4 linked regions of the Homo sapiens genome follow. The protein of the gene in region 1 purifies or fractionates together with the protein of each later gene. This does not show direct contact. Each region holds a gene or a part of one and is shown on either strand. Other genes may lie near its edges.

Evidence for each region. The genes of interacting proteins can lie anywhere in the genome.
Region 2: the proteins of FBXL17 (region 1) and SUGT1 purify together in Homo sapiens (co-immunoprecipitation; 2 studies listed by BioGRID and IntAct, with this or other methods). This does not show direct contact.
Region 3: the proteins of FBXL17 (region 1) and ZBTB10 purify together in Homo sapiens (affinity purification with western blotting; 3 studies listed by BioGRID and IntAct, with this or other methods). This does not show direct contact.
Region 4: the proteins of FBXL17 (region 1) and ZBTB33 purify together in Homo sapiens (affinity purification with mass spectrometry; 2 studies listed by BioGRID and IntAct, with this or other methods). This does not show direct contact.

The regions. Positions count from the first base shown.
Region 1 is NC_000005.10:108,360,536-108,366,332, forward strand, and holds part of FBXL17 (F-box/LRR-repeat protein 17), read right to left. Parts: intron 4,461-5,797; coding exon 4,203-4,460; intron 1-4,202. UniProt on the Homo sapiens protein: Substrate-recognition component of the SCF(FBXL17) E3 ubiquitin ligase complex, a key component of a quality control pathway required to ensure functional dimerization of BTB domain-containing proteins (dimerization quality control, DQC).
Region 2 is NC_000013.11:52,654,688-52,659,335, forward strand, and holds part of SUGT1 (protein SGT1 homolog), read left to right. Parts: intron 1-2,844; coding exon 2,845-2,935; intron 2,936-3,411; exon of another isoform or gene 3,412-3,520; coding exon of another isoform or gene 3,521-3,539; intron 3,540-3,711; coding exon 3,712-3,781; intron 3,782-4,491; coding exon 4,492-4,562; intron 4,563-4,648. UniProt on the Homo sapiens protein: May play a role in ubiquitination and subsequent proteasomal degradation of target proteins.
Region 3 is NC_000008.11:80,516,078-80,520,725, forward strand, and holds part of ZBTB10 (zinc finger and BTB domain-containing protein 10), read left to right. Parts: intron 1-2,325; coding exon 2,326-2,502; intron 2,503-2,704; coding exon 2,705-2,877; intron 2,878-3,145; coding exon 3,146-3,451; 3' UTR 3,452-4,648. UniProt on the Homo sapiens protein: May be involved in transcriptional regulation.
Region 4 is NC_000023.11:120,255,207-120,258,898, forward strand, and holds the end of ZBTB33 (transcriptional regulator Kaiso), read left to right. Parts: coding exon 1-228; 3' UTR 229-3,192; downstream 3,193-3,692. UniProt on the Homo sapiens protein: Transcriptional regulator with bimodal DNA-binding specificity.

The DNA of each region.
Region 1 (5,797 bases):
CAATTATACTATAATGTGTCTCAGTGTATATCTCTTTGACATTATCCTCCCTGAATTTATTGAGTTTCTTGGACGTATAGATGCGTATCTTCCACCAAATTTCGGAAGTTTGGGCCATTATTTCTGCAAATATTCTTCCTGCCCCTTTTATTTCTCCTTTCCTTCTGGAATTAGCAAAATGTGAATGTTTTTCTGCTTGATGGATGTCCCACCCATCTCTTAGGCTCTACTTACTTTTCTTCACTCTTTTTTCTTTCTCTTTCTTAGACTCAATAAATTCAATTGTCCTATCTTCTTTCTTCCACCTGCTCACTTCGGCTCTTGAATCCCTCTGGTAAATGTTTTATTTCAGTTATTGTACTTCTTAGCTCCAGAATTTCTATTTGGTTCTTTCCATAATTTCTAGCTCTTCATTGACATTCTCAATTTGTTCATACATTATTTTCCTAATTTCCTTCATTTCTTTGGCCATGGTTTCCTTTATGTCTTTGAGCATATTTCAGATAATGGATTTAAAATCTTTAGTAAAATCTTTAGTAAATCCAATGTCCAGGCTTCCTCAAGAATGGGTTCTATTTATTCTTTTTTGTTTTAATGGGTAATACTTTTTTCTTTGCATGCCTTGTAATTTATTGTTGAAAACTAAATATTAAAATATTAGATTATAATGTGGTAACTTGGGAAATTAGATTCTCCCCACTTCCCTACGCTTCACTATTTTTGATTAATCAAGGCTTAGCTTGTGTTCAGCCAGTGTTTTGAAAGAGATTTCCTTGGATGCCAAAGCTTAAAAACAAAACTAAAACAAAAAACAAAAGCACTTATTCAAGTCTTTGCAGACTGGCTCTGTGCTGGGATATTTCTTTAAGACTTAGCCATACCATTCACAACTCTGCCTTGGCCTTTACTTCCTGCTTGTACTGGACCTAGCAAGCACACAGTGATAAAGTTTACAGTCTTCTTAGGTCGTTCCTGAACAAGTGTCCTGCCCTGGGCATGCATGCGGCTTTCAAAATTCCCTTCTATACACTGAGGCTGATTGTCCTAATTTCAAAACAAAAACAAAAATAAAAACAAACTCTCTCCCAGGCTCTTTCTCCTAGGTCAATTGTATGTCTCACCATAATCTATTGCCCAAAGAAGCTTGCTCAAAAGCAAGTTTCTTTCATTTGCCTTATACTGTGTTCAATCAATGCCCACTAATTTTCCTCCCTGACTGGGTTCTAAATTAGGTAAAACAGATATATAAGCACCTGCATCAGCCCTTCAAATAGCTCTCAGGTAGGTTGATCAGACAAATGAATAATTTGCAAATAAGGTCTGCTCTGTTCCCTCTGGAACCAGGGATCTGGGTCCCACACTGGGAACTCGGACTGCTATCTTCAAGACTGTTGCCAAGCTGGGGAATGGGTGAGGCACAGGCAAGTAAAAAACCCACAAAGCATTCTTTCCACCTTTCAGTTGCATTTTTCTTGTCTAGCATTCCTTTGGTTGCTATAAACCTTTGACGTTTCCAGAGTTCTGACAAAGTTGGATCTGATAGTTTAGGCTTGTTTTTCAATGTTTTTTTGGAGAGGCAGGCTTTTGGAGCTGCCTGCTCCAACATTTTGCTGATAGTACTCTAAGTAGTTATTTTTAAAGACCTAAAAATTGATAGCATAGCCAGATCAAAATTTACTAATGTAACATTTATTATTTTTGTACCATTTTATCTGAAAAAAGCCTACAGTGACTTATTTACAGAAATTTCTACTGAGCTCCATGAGCTGGAGTGTTAAACTGCTAAAACTGCATATAATTGAGTCACATAATATAGTAACAATGCATACAATTTCTTAGATATATTTTAATACTTTGACTACTATTATCGTTTGTTTACTGGCAAGTGCTAGATGATAACAAAATATTAGGAAAATTGAAACAGCCCTTTATTCTTAAATAGATTTTTCCTCTAGATACATGATTGTAGTTTTAAAAGATATATACAATAGGAACACATTCCACTGGTAAAATTATTTTGAGTGACTATTATGAAAATAAAAATATAAATATTTCAGGGTGGTATTTCACAAAGAGGATAGTATTCAACCAAAACCAGCCTGATTTTTTTAGGTGCTTCACCATGCTTAAGAAATATTGTTAAGCAGAATCCAATAGTTAAAACATTAGAGTCTACATCTATTAGAGCTCCAAATTGAAATGCTATAAGCAACTGTTTTTGTAAACAAACTGACAGAATTCAAAAGGCACACATATTTGGTATCCGCTAAAGTCAATCAAAATTATAGCAGTTATAAAGAAAATATATTCTAAAGAAATTATCAATAAAATTTACATATATCATTCTAAAACATTTCTCAATTTTTACTGACAGAAGAGGGAAAAAACAGAACCCTGCAACAACTTAATCTGTAGAATCAACAATTCAGTCAATTGCTAAATTAATGAGTTCAAGAAAAAATAACAGTCCCAGGCAAATCATCAATTATGGCTAGTTCCCTCTTAGGCTTTCGTAACTCTATTATACATTTTAACATAGCACTGTCAGTTTACTAAAACCATAATATAAATCCATATTCGGATTTATGAAATATCACTAGGTCATAAAATTAATTTAGTGAGTGGGTCAAGGCCAACATTTAACATAATAGTATAGAACAGAATAGATAATATCCATGTGCATTGCACATAAGGATGTGTATTGTTTCATAAAACTTAATTTCTATTTTATGTATATATGAAAGCCATTCTCTTTCTACTATACCCATAACACTATTCCATCAGAGGAAAGAGTCTATTATGAAATCAGACATACCCAGCTATAGCGGTCTTAAGTACAGAAAAATATTCTCTACACTGCAATGAGATCCTATGTAATTACTTAAGAAGAAAACTACCTAAGGGGAAAAAAATTTGTTTTGCTACTTTTATCAGAATATTACCTCACGTGTAACTAATTCATAATTCAGAAACCATAAATATCCGAAGGAAACATCTAAGTAACAGGCTCCAAAATACCTCACATTCTAGAGAAGATTTACATAATTACTCTCAAAGTTGTAAATATAAGATAAATTCATAATACTTGATTAGCATATTAAATGTTGCTCCTTCTCTACTTCAACCATGACTACGATCTTATTCTTTTTCACAAAAATTACTAGGTATACCCTAAGAAGTCTGCTAAACTACTACCTATTTGTGTTATATCAGAATTAAATATGAAATAGATTTAATCCAGTTCTTAATACATACACCTTTTTAAAATGTTTCATTGTGAAAAATAAATTGCTGAGAAATTTCCATCAAAGTAAATAAAATCATGCTATATACACAAAATATATATTTCTTCATAAAAGATTAATTTAATATGTTTAAGAACTTCATGAAATGCTTTGCTAGTAAATAATCCTGTACATAGCAGAAATGAATCAAGAAAAATATTAAAACAAATAAGACTTTTTGCACAATATGCCTTTGCAAACAAAATAGGCTCCCTTATAAGTTGGTAACATTCTTAATATATAAGTTGTACTGACACACCCAGTACTCACTATTTAGGATAGAGTCTTCCCAAATTTCTTTTCATACCAAGCTTTCAGTTAATTCATACATAAGGTTTAAATTTAAGGATATTCATCTGTTGAATAAATAATCCACTCCGAGCCAAGAAACCTTAAATGCCATTTCCAAAGGAAGTATAATAAACAGAAGGTATGCATAATACTATTTTTAACCCAGTTATTGTACCAAATAGAGGTAATTAGGCCTTTGTTCTAACTTTTATAATCTTCAATTTGGACGTCCATTTATCCCTTAAACATTCAGATATTTAAGCATGTATGTCATCTAGTATAATAAAAGGGGAATTAAAATGTTAATTTTTAAAACCTCATGCTGACCAAAACTACGCAGTTGCCCAAAGCAAAATGTGGTAAAAAATTTAAGTAACAAAAGCATAAATTTATAAAATGGCTGGTCACAGAAGTTCAGGCTCTCACTATAAAACAAAGCAGTTAATTTACTGATTATAACCATGGCACTCTAGTTAACTAATCTAAACAAATATTCATTAATAGGTAAAAAAGATGATTCACTTGAGTCTCTGGGAACTATTTTTAACGTAACCATTTAAAATGTTGTTGCTAGAAAACATTTTTAATTAATTCAAGTAAAATCACTTTATAAATGCTAAAATTTACCTGCTTGAGTCCTTCATCAGTGAGTTTGTCCTGGTTGCCTACATGCACTTTCTGAAGTAAAGGACAGTGAGAGGCAACCGCAATAATAGAGGTGTCAGAAAGCTGTTTACACCTGTAGGCTGTATACCTAAGAAGTCCAGGACATTTAAATGCTAAAACACATACGCCATTATCAGACATACTGCGACAATCAGAAATGTTGATTTCAATTATATTCTGACTTCTTGATGCAATTTTTTCCAACAATTCATCAGTGACCTGTAAGAGAAAAAGCAATAAATTTAAACTTTTGCTAAAAATAAAAACGTATTTTCCATTTTTTAATTAAATGTTCCACAATAAACAATATACTAATTAGATTATAGCATGAACGATATAATCAAAAGAGAAACCGTCTTAACATTGAAGCATAACAAGAATTTGGTATAATAATAATATTGTAATTGGTCTTTGTCCTGAATTCTTGCCACATATTTCCCAAAACTCTTGGAATTTCCTAAGCAATAGAATTTCTTTAGTTATTCATAACAAGCCCTTTAGACCATATCTGAGTTCATACTAATGAAGTGACTTAGAGTGGGGCGCCTAGATGGCTTCAGAATGGGGGCTGGTTACCAGAAAAACTAAACCCTTGATTAGAGGGTGATAACTTTCAACACTACTTACAGGAGAGGAAGGAAGCTGGAGATTGGGTTATAAAAACTCAAATGACAGAGATTCAGATGGTAAACAACATCAAAGTGCTGAGAAGGTGGTATATCCCATACCTTGCCTTCTGCATCTCTTCCAGTGGGCTGGCCCTGAGCTATATCTTTTATAATAAACCCATAAATATAGTAAGTATTTTCCAGAGTTCAGTGAATAGTTGTGGCTAATTATCAAAACTGAGAAAGAAATTAAGGGAACTCACAAGTTTATAATTGGTCAGTGAGAAGTTCAGGTGGCTTCTGGGACTTGCAACTGATATCTGAAGTGTGGGTAGTCTTGTGGGACTGAGCCCTTAAACTCAGTGATACCTCTGGGAGTTAGTTGAACTGAATTGTTGTACATCCAGTTAGTGTTAGAAAATTGTTAGTGTGGAAAAACTCCACATATTTGATGTCAGAAGTGGTATCAGAAAACACCAACAAAGGATATGTGTTCGTCTCATTAAAAGCCTAAAAATCTATCCTTAGTGGGAAAATTCAAATTCAGCAAAAACTCACCACAAATAAAACTATACTGAGATTTTCAATGTTTCACTTTCCATTTGTAACCCATGAAATAGTATACATCAGTAATAATGTTATATGAAAATTCACTTTTACACTTGATATCAGATGATACCACAGCGTGTAAGTTTTTAATCTTTTACTGTTTCTATGAGAAACAATACCTCGCATATAATTCATAGGTTGGAAAATACACCATTTTGCATATCAGAACACCAAAGACTATATAGGAACGTCCACATCAAAAAGTTTTTCTCAGACGACTCAATTCATCTGGTGAAAAACTCAGATGGCCATCTGAATTTTTGTTTTAAAACCAGCCTCTACATATTCTGTGCCCAATCACCACATTTCCAAAATACAAAACAAAGTTAATGTTATTCA
Region 2 (4,648 bases), on another chromosome or scaffold:
AGGTGCTTTATTGAATGTAGACACTCTTTTTGCTTTAATGATTACATAAGTATACATTCATATTGTGTGAAGTAGTAGTTCTTTCGCATTGCTGTGTAATATTCCATTGTATAAATATATGTTGTATAGCCGTAAGTACGGCGCAATTTATTCTAACAGTGGACATCTGGGTTATTTCTAGTTATTAGCTAACAAAAAGCTTCTGTGAATACTCTTGTACATGTATTTTGGTGAACACATGCATTTCTTTTGGTTGTATGTACCTAGGAGAAGAATTGCCTAGGATAGTCATGTGGCTAGTATTAGTACCTTGGTTTTTAATGTATGGCTCTTGGACCAGCATTATCAGCATCACCTGGCAATTCATTAGAAGTGCAGCCGGGCGCGGTGGCTCACGCCTATAGTCCCAGCACTCTGGGAGGCCGAGGCAGGCGGATCACGAGGTCAGGAATTCGAGACCAGCCTGGCCAACATGGTGAAACCCCGTCTCTATTAAAAATACAAAAAATTAGCCGGGCATGGTGGTGGGCAGCCGTAATCAGCTACCTGCGAGGCTGAGGCAGGAGAATCACTTGAACCCTGGAGGTGGAGGTTACAGTGAGCTGAGATCGCGCCATTGCACTCCAGCCCAGGCGACAGTGAGGCCAGGCCATCAAAGGCATTAAATCCCAGCACAGGGTTTTCAGTTTTATCATATGATTATGGAGATCCGTCAAGAATTTGGAGGAAGGAAAATGAAATTTTCTGAATTACAAAACCTACTTTAAAAGCAGAGTAGATAGCGAATTGGAGGAGGCACAAGGGATAGTGGATAGCAGGAAGATGGTAGTGCAGACCGGGTCAAAGATGAATATTTGCATGTAGGGCAGTGATTGAGGGCATGGAGGTGAGTTGTTTTATGTAAAATGCACCGGACTTGGTGACGATTAGAATATAAGGGATGTCTCCTGAGTTTCTGGCTGGGGGAATGTTGTAGGAACTGGTGCCATTCATTTAGATAGCACTTAGGATGATAGCACTTAGAAGATTGCCTTCAGCATGGGGGAATAGGTTTGAGGATAGAAAGTAGTTTTAGATTGTGAATATTTGTATATGAGTTGCCTCTGGGACATTTCAGGTAAAGTTTAGAGAAAACTATATGCTGATGTTGCCCAGGACCACTGTCTAGGCTCAAGATAGACTTGAGTCATCAGCATGCATCAACACATATGTGAAGCCCCCCAGTAGTTAAGGAATCAAAGAATGTTTGTAGAGGGGAAGAAGTCTTAAGTACTGAGCCCAAGGAGAACATTAGTTTTTAAGAGGCAGCAGAATGGTAAGCTGAAAGGCCTGGTTATTATTGTCAAGGGCCACAGAGAGATCAAGTCAGATAGGAATCAGTTGGATTTTATAAGGGGTTATTAGTGACTTTGAGAAGATTAAGACTAGAGAGGCAAATATTTTTGTATTCTATGGCAAAGGAGATGCAGTCAAAGTAGAGACTGGGGAAAAGGCTGAAAAAAGTCTGCAAGAAGAAAAATCAATACTTTTCATTGAGTGATTACTGGATGTCACATACAGATCTAGGCAAGCCCAACACCCTGGAGTCATCTTCAGTTTCTCTTATCCCACATGTTCACCCATTAGCAAGTCTCTCTGCTTCTAATATGTTCCAACTTAATCGTATTTCTTTTCATCACCTCTGTGGCTAACATCCTTTTCTAGCCTAGACTTAATGTAATAGTTTCCTAAGAAGTCTCCGTTTCCAGTCTTGATTTGATAATGTATTTACCATACTGCAGCCAGAATGACATTAAAAAAAAGTAAATTGGACCATGTTCCCCTTACTAACAGTGAACTTTCCATGGCTTTCCATCAAACGTAAGGTCCAAATTCCTTATAACTGCCTGCAAGCTACAAAGTGAGGCCCTTAAAGTAGCATCTTACAGCTTCTTTGCTCTCTTGATTTGAGCCTTACTTTCTGTTGATTGACTGTAACCCCATGTGAGTTGAGGAGCATCTGTATATGTTGCTTTCTGAGAGTCACACTACTAGGTTAAAGCAAAGTCAATGATACATGTGGCTCTTGAAATAATTTTACCATTTAAGAAAACTACCAAATCCCTAGAGTTTGTAGGCAGTTGGCAGAAAATAAAAGTGTTCCTGCACTTGTCTTTGATCTCCCTAATTGTGTAATCTCTTACATCATTATTTTTCCAGCTACCACACCTATATGTTGTGACTGCACAAGTTAAAAAAGTTTCAATCTCTAATGTTAACTCTTGGTAGTTGACATAGCCATCTATTAGATTGTATCTGGGCTTTGAACAGAATATTTAGTTGGGTTTTATTAGAGTTGTGTGCTATTGTTAGAGGCTAGGAGAGGGCCAGGTACACTTGATTGTGTATGTATTGATTGTCTTAACCTCCCTGAGTGCTAGATTTAACTTCTGGTCTTTTTTTATTGCACAGCTTAACATTTTCTAGGAATCTCAAATTCTATATGGTGTTTGAATCTTCTTCAAATTAGTAGGAGGAAATCTGTAATGGTCAATGTGTAACAATTAAACTCTTCAGAATATATGAGCTGATAATAATGATCATTTATTAAGTTCTATAGACCAGGAACTAAAAGCTTTACGGTACAGAGATGCTACATTAGATTGCCTACTTTTGGGAGGAGGGGCAAGAGAAGTGGGGGAGATATTGATCCTTTTATAAGGAAAAACTCCAATATTATATCCGTGTTATCTTTCCTCCAAATAGCTTCTGACAATAAGTTACTTGATTAAAAATTATGTTTTAATTAGAATTTGATGGCTTCTTACAAACTTTTACTGACGCTCCACATGTTTGTTTTTGTAGGAGCTGACTAAGGCTTTGGAACAGAAACCAGATGATGCACAGTATTATTGTCAAAGAGCTTATTGTCACATTCTTCTTGGGAATTACTGTGGTAACGTTTCTTATAAAGTATATTGCCCCCTTTTAATAAGTTACTTATACATTTTACCCATGACAAATTAAAAGTTGTCTTTGAGAATTTTTAAATTGGTCTTTTATACAAGGTAAAGTAGCTCAAATGTGACAGACATGTTGAGCAACACCCATTTAAATTTTATGGATGTCGCTTTTTCCTTCATTGGGTGGAGAATGTATACAGATTTCATTCATAGTTATTGGGTATGCTGATAAAAAATAGCATCACATTTACTATTTGACAGACTATTAAAATGAAATGCTCGTTTAAATTTTTTTTATAAAAAAGAATGTGGCCAGGCATGGTGGCTCACGCCTGTAATCCCAACACTTTGGGAGACCAAAGCAGGAGGATCATTTGAGCCCAGGAGTTCAAGACCAGCCTGGGCAACATAACAAGACCACCTGTATTTAAAAAGTAATGTATTTCTGTATTTTGTACCTTCTGAATAGGGAAAAACTGAATACCTTGAGTAAAATTACATAGAAAATGTTAATGAGACAAGGAGGTGAATTTTGTGACACAGCTGTATTCATTGAAGAGCTTTAAGAAGGAAGCTAAATGTTAAGCCAAAAGGAAGGTACAAGAGTAATATTTATTTGAATTCTATCTTGTATTAGCTTTTCCTAATTTAAAACCATTTGGCATTTCTACCAACTTGAAAACTTAGAAATCTAAAACTGATTCATATGTTGTGTGTATTTGCTAGGATCTATAAATAACTGACTAAAAACCCGTCTTTTTCTACACAGTTGCTGTTGCTGATGCAAAGAAGTCTCTAGAACTCAATCCAAATAATTCCACTGCTATGCTGAGAAAAGGGTATGCAGTAGCTACTCTTCTTGTTGAGCTTGGTATAGATAGTAGGTATTTAATTTGTTGAATGAGTTCATTGCAAGCTTTATATAAGTTGTAAAATTCTGTATTTATACATTATATAGCAGAGATATGATTCAATTTTAAATACAACTTATAGTTCTATTATTTTGTTAACCAAAGTATGTGATAGGAGATCTGTACTTAGTAAATTTTAAAATAGTGATGATTGAAGTATTTGCAAGGTATAGATGAAACTGATAGATTTCACATTGCTTTTTTTTTTTTTTTTTTCAATCTTTTGGAATTTACTATATTTAATTGACTGGACAACATCCTATTCAGCAAAGCTGAATAGGCTACATTTAATGCTATGAAAGCGCTATATCTGTATACTTTATATCCCATCTTGTTTCTGTTGATAAGTATAACTATTCTTTAAGAAACTTCTTTAATTCCTTTGTATAATTATATTTTTGAGTAAGCAAGTCTGTACAATTAAAGTCAGATTCCTTCTGAAGTGAGTTCTAAAATTGAATTTTAGTAGGAATTGTACTAGATCTTAACAGTATATTAGAAAGTCTCTAGGTTTATTAACATACACTTAAAATAAATTTTTTCTTTCAACAGTAGAAAATACTAAGTTTTTTATTTAGAAAGAAGGTATTTTCCAGATTTTTTGTGTGTCTTAATTTGTTTTAAATATATTCATGCAGAATATGTGAATACCATGAAAAAAACTATGCTGCTGCCCTAGAAACTTTTACAGAAGGACAAAAATTAGATAGTAAGTATTAAAAATTATACTTTAATAAACTTATCTATTTCTGTCTTAAATACCAAAGCTGAATTTTGGTAATGTTAATTTCAAGT
Region 3 (4,648 bases), on another chromosome or scaffold:
AGGGATATTCTTCTGTCTCCTTTTTCTTTTGAGATGGGGTCTCACTCTGTCACCCAGGCTGGCCTGAATCTCATGGGCTCAAGCGATCCTCCCACAGCCTCTCAAATTACTGGGATGACAGGCACGAGCCACTGTGCCTGGCCTATTTCCTTATTCTTACATGTTGTGAATAATATTTAATTGTAGATACTAGAACATCTAATGTGTCTTTTGGTACTAGTTTTCCAAGTATTTTGAGCAAGTCAGAAGTATGTATTGGCATTTGCTAGATAACATTTATTCTACAAGTAATTGTAGGGCATGTGTCTTAAACAATAGAAAAACCAAGGCAAGTAAGATAGGCGCAGGAGTTTGTACTGATTTAGACAAGAAATATGGATCATAAAGCTCAAACTTTGTTTAGAGATGTGAAACTAACAGTAGGTTGACCTCCACAGGCTACCACTTCCGTTCCATTCTTTATCCCTCACACAGAAATGCTTCACTTTAGGATTCTTACAACTTACTCCCAAACACTAATTAGGTGCAGCTATAATGAGTTATAGTTGAATTTATGTAGCTATGGGTTCAGGGGGCTTTCTTTACATCAAAAACCGGTGACGGTATTCCAAGTACAGCACAGTTTACAGTAATAGTAATGATGTGCAGTTTTAAAATATTTTAGAGACATTTTTACTTTGTTGGGTATTAAGACTTTCACCAAAAAGGAATCTTAAGTTATCTTAATTTTTAAGAGGGACAGCATGTCTGAGAACATATATGGGAAGTGATTCTTAGGAAATCCATTTGGGTAAACATTCTTTACTTTTAAAACCGTGATGCCCATGGGAGGAAAATGTATTATTGCTGCTTGAGTGAACTGTATCTTGGCAAGGAGTGTTTTAGGCAGAGGAAAGCTTAAGCACTTTGAATTGGGAGCATGCTTATTATGGACGAGGAACAGAACAGAGGTCAGTATAGTTGGAATAGAGTGACTGAAAGGAAAGGGTGGTTGGAAGCCAGGGCTCCACCGGGTAAAGCTTTGGAGGATATTGAAAGTCTCTAGCTTTTACTGTGAGGGTGGGTAGTCTTTGCAGCCTTGTAAGCTGAGTGGTGACCTGACTTAAGGTAGTGTTTTAAAGAATCTGTGATTTCTCTGCTGAGAACAGACTCTAGGAAGGCAACAGTGGAAGTAGGGAGACAAGTTTTTGGTGGCTACTGAAGACAGTCCAGGGGCTAGAGCTCATGATTGATTGGATCAGGGTGGCAATAGTTGTGGAAGATTCTGGATATATATTCCTATTGCCAAAAGGTTCCTGGTCCAAGGAATTACATTAAAGATGGAATTAAATCCAGTGGATATAATTCCTGTCCTTGCTAATCTGAAGATCCTTAGGCACATGTATTATTCTATTTTGATTCTATCTTCTGCACGTTATTTTATTTAAGGATGGAGTTAGAAAGAAATTTCAGGGAACCCTGAGAGCATTCAGTTACCTTGCCCTAATATGTCTGAAACAAGGATCTAGTAATAGAACTTTACATTTTTAATTATCCTATATATATTCTTTATTCTTAGTCTATTTTTCTGTACCAATTAATCTTAAAATTATGTGCCTGTCCTGGATTCGTAATAAGGAGAATATCCCATTTGATAGCTGGGCTTTAGGGTGATAAAATCTTAAGTGATAGAGTAGTTAGAAAAAGCAACTATTAGGAGTTCTGGTTTGAATATACCCATCCTTTAAAAGGGTAATTTCTTGTGGCGTCTGCACAATTAAATGATATTCATGTTTTTTTCTCCCGCCCGCCACCTTTTTTTTTTTTTTTTTTTTTTTTTGAGACATGATCCCACTGTGTCGCCCTGGCTGGAGTGCAGTGGCGCAATCTTGAATCACTGCAACTCCCGGGCTCAAATGATCTTCCCCAGTAGCTGGGACTGCAGGCACACACCACCATGCCCAGCTAATTTTTAAAATTTTTTTGTAGAGATGGAGATGGAGTTTCTCCATGTTGCCCAGGCTGGTTGCAAACTCCTGGGCTCAAGTGATCCTTCTGCCTCAGCCTCGCAAAGTGCTGGGATTATATGCATGAGCCACTGTGCCTGGCCCATGATTAATTTTTTTAACTGAATTTCTTCTACTATAGTTGAATGGTATTTTGTTTAATTGTGATAATAAAGTAGGAAGACATCTCAATTTTAGACTAAAATACAGTTTTATTTAACTCATACTATGAAATTCTATCATAATGCCTGTAGGATATAAATATAATTTCTGTTTTCTGACTCTGATGAGAGACAGATCTTTATTACCATTATTAATTCAGAATTTTTACTTGTACTAGGTACTTCACATGATTTCAAGTATGGTTTGATGCCTGGTCCTTCAAATGATTTCAAGTATGGATTGATACCAGGTACTTCAAATGATTTCAAGTATGGATTGATACCAGGTGCTTCAAATGATTTCAAGTATGGATTATTGCCAGAATCTTGGCCAAAACAAGAAACCTGGGAAAATGGCAAGTATTAGTCAACTAAACAAATACAGAATTAATTAAATAATTGTTAACAATTAAAAGCTTTCATGTTCTGCATTTTTTAAAAACCAAGTAGCAGTAGCTCCACATAATTGCTGTTCTCAGAGATAGAGATAAGAAGTTTTGATAGCAAGTTTTCTGTTTAATGTGTAATAAGCACTTTCTCTTTTTTTAATTCTCATAGGTGAATCATCTCTAATCATGAACAAGTTAAAATGCCCTCATTGTAGCTATGTAGCCAAATACAGACGAACACTAAAAAGGCACTTGCTCATTCACACAGGAGTGAGATCATTTAGCTGTGATATTTGTGGAAAACTGTTTACTCGAAGAGAACATGTAAAAAGACATTCCCTGGTAAGTAACTTTAAATACAGCTGATCTTTGAGATAAACTATATTTATGTCAGTGAAGTTTAAAGGGATTTAAACAGTTAATTGTGAATTTAAGGAAGATTGTCTCCTAAATTGCTTTAAACAGTTTGACTTTATGAACTGATAGTGAGCTTTTTACAGAGAAACTGGTGTATTCACTCACTATTAAATGTGTGGTTTAATTTGAGTGGTTCAAATGCATTCTATTATATATAATATCCTTATATTGGATTTTTTCCCCCTCCAATTAGGTGCATAAAAAGGATAAAAAATACAAATGTATGGTGTGTAAGAAGATCTTCATGTTAGCAGCCAGTGTTGGAATAAGACATGGATCTCGACGTTATGGTGTTTGTGTAGACTGTGCAGATAAATCACAGCCAGGAGGGCAAGAAGGTGTAGATCAGGGACAGGATACAGAATTCCCTCGGGATGAAGAATACGAGGAGAATGAAGTAGGAGAAGCTGATGAAGAGCTAGTTGATGATGGAGAAGATCAGAATGATCCCTCTCGATGGGATGAATCAGGAGAAGTTTGTATGTCTCTAGATGATTAACTGACCTACTATACTCCTCAAGGATGCTGCATTTGGACCTAATATGAATCGACAATTTGGATTGTTGAACTTGAAGGCTTGCAAAATATGGTACATGCTGGATAGTAGTTATGTTGCTGTGAAAACTGTAGGGTCAAAGCCTTATAGCAAAAAAAATTTTTTTTTATATTTGCACAGGACTATACAGCAAACAACCATGTGGTTGGATTACATGGAGTCCCCACATACTCAGTCAGTTATCAAAGTAAAATATTTTTTATTTATAGGATATACAGTAACTATTTGGGTCCTATGAAAATAGTCCTTAAAGAGCTTACATTCATGTGCTACTTTAACATGAATGGAGAAAATCCGTTTATGGAAGTACAGTGACAATTGACCCAATCACTCTGTCCATCAAACCACTCAGGCTAGTTTGTACTAGTAGAGTTTTGTTTCTATTTTTATTTTTATTAATTTTATTTTTTTTAATACAGATTTTCAGTGAGGGGCTTTTTCAACCCCATTGGTTCTATTTTCTTGTATTTTTCCATTTAATTTGCTTCATAACTTAAACCAAGTCTCTTCTAGTCTTAGGTATTATTTCTCGATTTTGTGCTGATGGGCATGTTTATAAGAACTGGAGAGGTAATTTATTGGAATGAACTAACTGACTTCCTCCATTCCCCTCTTCCTTTTTGACATGAATTTTACTACTTCACAAATGAAGAATGATGTTATGAAGTTACCGTGGCGAAGTTGACAAATACCACTAAAATGATTATGATTTAGAAGTAACTTTCTTCTGCTGCTCTAATCTGATAAATGGTTACTATATGATATTTTCTGACATGGTATTTGGTTTTGGGTATCTGTTACTTTGGCACTATTCTTGTTTGCCTCTTTATTTTTGCCAGTGTACTATACCTCAGTCCTATTTGAAAGACCTAATTGAAAGAAAAATCATAGAAATAAGTAAAATGATTTGTTTTATAATTTATCCACCATGTCCAGTTTGGTTAGCTTGTTATGCAATATAAGTGAAATATCAGGTTTTTACCCGTGTCCCTTTTATCATGAAAATTAACACAAAATGTGCATTCTCTTTTGTTTCATACTTAGCGGGATATTGATTGTTTTGAAATTATGATCAATACTTAATTTATTTTTTTCTGTCCTTGAAGTCACTACACCTTGATACAGTCTTTCTAGTAGTCA
Region 4 (3,692 bases), on another chromosome or scaffold:
GCATATCTTTCCGATAGATCAAGCACTATTCCTGCAATGAAGGATGATGGTATTGGGTATAAGGTTGACACTGGAAAAGAACCTCCAGTAGGGACCACTACATCTACTCAGAACAAGCCAATGACCTGGGAAGATATTTTTATTCAGCAGGAAAATGATTCAATTTTTAAACAAAATGTAACAGATGGCAGTACTGAGTTTGAATTTATAATACCAGAGTCTTACTAAACTCCTTTGAAATACTAGAAAGTTTTGTTTTGGATGATGGGGCAGGGGTTTCAGAAGATCTGTAAAACAAATTAAGGTGCGAACAAGTTAATTTGATCTGCCACATTATCTGAAGGAAGTGTAGTGGGATTTTTGTTGATAATTTTTAGAAGCAAATTTTCCTGAAAGTTTTGAGTAGAGGTGAGACCCCCTCCCCAAGTATCTGTTTATATAGTTAGTTTTCAGCTCATTTAAAAGAGGCAAAAATTAAAAGCTTGGAGAGATAGTTTCCTGAATAGAATTTGAAGCAGTCTGAATGTTCTTTGAAAATAACTGGAGTTATTAGCATACCCTAGTACATCTTACAGCTTTCCCCTTCCATGTTAGCACTTTACTGCTGAATTCTCAATTTTCTTAACATTGAGACAATAAATGTGTGTTTTGTCTTGTATATGGCATAAAGAGTAAATAAGTTTTAGAGTTGTTCTGGAAAATGTCAGAATAAGTCAGTACTTGGGTTGTGTAATCTGCTAGTCCAAGCGAACAGCAACCTCCTGCTACCCTCCCTCTATGAAAATAGCCATGCAGACAAGTCTCTCATCTGAAGAACAAATTAGATTTAGCTAATTAGAATTAATCCTGGCTTTCATTGCCATAGTCTGTAAAAGACTTTGGTGGCTAGACCACTTTATACCTTCGCAGTGTGGTCTCTGGGGGCAAAAAACTAATGAAAACAATCTCTGTAATGGCAGATAGGAGGAGATGAAAAGTTCTGTTGCATGGATTTTTAATTCTCTGGCTACCACATAGTAGAGAATGGAATGAAGATTTCCTTTTGGCTTCTTAAGGTTAAAAATATTCCCATGAACATGAAAATTTTCAAATTTTGAATCTGAAAGCCACCAAATGTATCTTTATGTATAAATCCTTGTAAATGATAGATTCCATGGGTGAGACTTTACATATTTTGGGTGGGAGGCTACTGGCATATATTTTTAAATGTTCATATTGCGTAGAATCTCCACTAGGAAGTCTTTATTTGAAATAGTTGAATCAGTGATCTAGTATTTTCCTTTCGGCAAGATTTGTTAGGTTTTTACCCCTTCTAAAATAAGTTTTATTCCATCTGCAAATTGCTGCAATATTATAGTAATCAGAAACTACATAAGGAATGTTATATAGGCTTGTCAGTTCCCATTTTTCTTGACAACAATAAATACCACTTTTAAAAATGACACATATTTAAACACTTAGAAAATAAAGTTAACACTTACTGAAGTGCTAGTACTAAACTGTGCTAGTACTAAAAGAAAACAGGTTGGAACATACATATAGCCTAGCATTTATAACAGAATTGTTGAACGTCTGTAAATGATTTTTTTTTTTTTTGCAAAGGAAAAAATTGATACTGGAAAAGATTGTTGTGCATAGTTATTAGTCATTTGTAACCTTGCTTAAGTATTTCTTAGTCCAACATAGATATTTTCTTTCTCCTGACCATGTATTTTAAAATATAGTCTATTTCTTGACTTTGAACTTAAAGCTTTAATCATAATTTCTCATGTATACATCGTTCTTCTGATGGTAAGCTGGATTTGAAGGTAGTGGTTTCAGTGTTTCTTAAGTTGGTAGCTGAGGGTATCAGGCATCAGTTCATGCAATAATACAAGAAAAAAAATCCTTTGCTTGCCAAGAGGTAGAGTGATGTGCATTTATCTGTTTTCTGTTCTGTAAGTCTAGACCTTCAAACCATTTGTAAACTAACCCCTGGGAAATTTGAAATTACCTGATAACTTAAGACTCTGTGATCTCTGGAATCACCATATGTTTCTTTTTTGTGTAGATATTAATAACATTACTCTTTGACTATAGTGTGCACTCTGAAATGTACTCAGTGAAAATTTGTTTTGAGTTTCATTAATGCTATTTCACCAGTTAGACATAATTACTTCTACCGATGTGAATGATACGGATGCCGGCAGAGCTTCCAGATCTTTCAGACTCAACTGCTAGGTCAATTAGTTTGTCATAATAAAACTTGGCAGATTCTACAAGTCTATTATGACAAACCAGGAACTAATTCTATAATGGAAAACTATCCATTCTGAATAATAGGTATGTAATTATTTGCTGCTGCTGCTGTGCTCTGTAAATTCTGAATATGACATTTAAACTCTGTGCCTACTAAAGGTATCTTCTGGAGTTTTTGGGAGGAGAGAAACTGGAAAATTAAATTGTATTTTTGCCAGAAGACTCTTACTTGCATGTGTCTCAGGGTCTTCAGTTTTTCTATAAGTTTCCATATCCAAAGTTCAGAATTCATGTGAAATACTTCTTTGGGGCAAAAGTCCTTCATTCCTGGTATTTATTGGATTGGAAATCTGTAGCAAGATGCTGTTTAAAATTACCATATTGTTTTTTTATCTTATACTTAGCTCTCTGGCTATTGAACTTCCTTTTCTTGTTTGAAGTTAGCTTCAAATTTGCTCCTATGCTAAATTACCTGTAAATATTCTGGATAGGAACTACTTGAAATAGTAATTTGTTAAAAGATATGACAAAATGAAAATGCTTAAACTACAGAAATTTAAAAATGCCATAACAATCTTGCGAGACTAACTTTAAAATATACTTTAAATGATTATTATGATTTTGGTGGTAACGATCCCCCACACACAACCACTATGAAGAAATAATGCCGCATTTTTCCCCCATTGTACCAAAAAGATAAAAAAATGGTAAACACTGATCAAGGTATTTTGTATTGTCAAGGCATGCATATTCTAAAGAATTAAATGCTAACTTAACAGCACTGGCTTTCTGGCTGGTCAACTATATGAAACCTTGTTCATTCCTCCGAGTACTGTAATGTTCACACTTGTACAATCTTCCCTGTCATGACTTTAAGTTCTACTTTTCATTAACCATGGCCTGATATTAGTTCTTAGAGCTTCTTGTGGCAAAAATAAAATGATTTAATTCTGATGTTTGAGTGCGTGTTTTACAAGATTGTCTTTCAGAAATTATATGGGTTTTTATATTGTTTTTCAATTTTTATAGCAGGAGACTGGGGCTGTATTTCTGATGACAGCACGGCAAAATTTCCCACTAGGTTTTATATGTTGGTTAAAAATGTCCCCTTTTATCTTGAACCCTAATAGTCAAAAGTGAGTCAGCTGCTGTCAGTTGCTTTAGAGCGTTTGCTGTACTTTTATAGCTACCTTGACACAAGTGGATAACGAGGGGAGGATAGTTTTATTCATTTGAAACATCACAAAAGCAGTCTGAGTTTTCAACATGGCAGTGATACAGATTTTAAGCAACATCCAGTTTATACAGTTTCTGGATTAATATTTTAATGTTTCATGCCCAGTTCAGTACTTTAAAGCAGAATTAGGAATAAAGCAGTAAATATTACAAAATGCAGTCAAGATACATATTGGAAATACAAATCCATTCATTACAGCAAATGTTTTGCAAAAGAG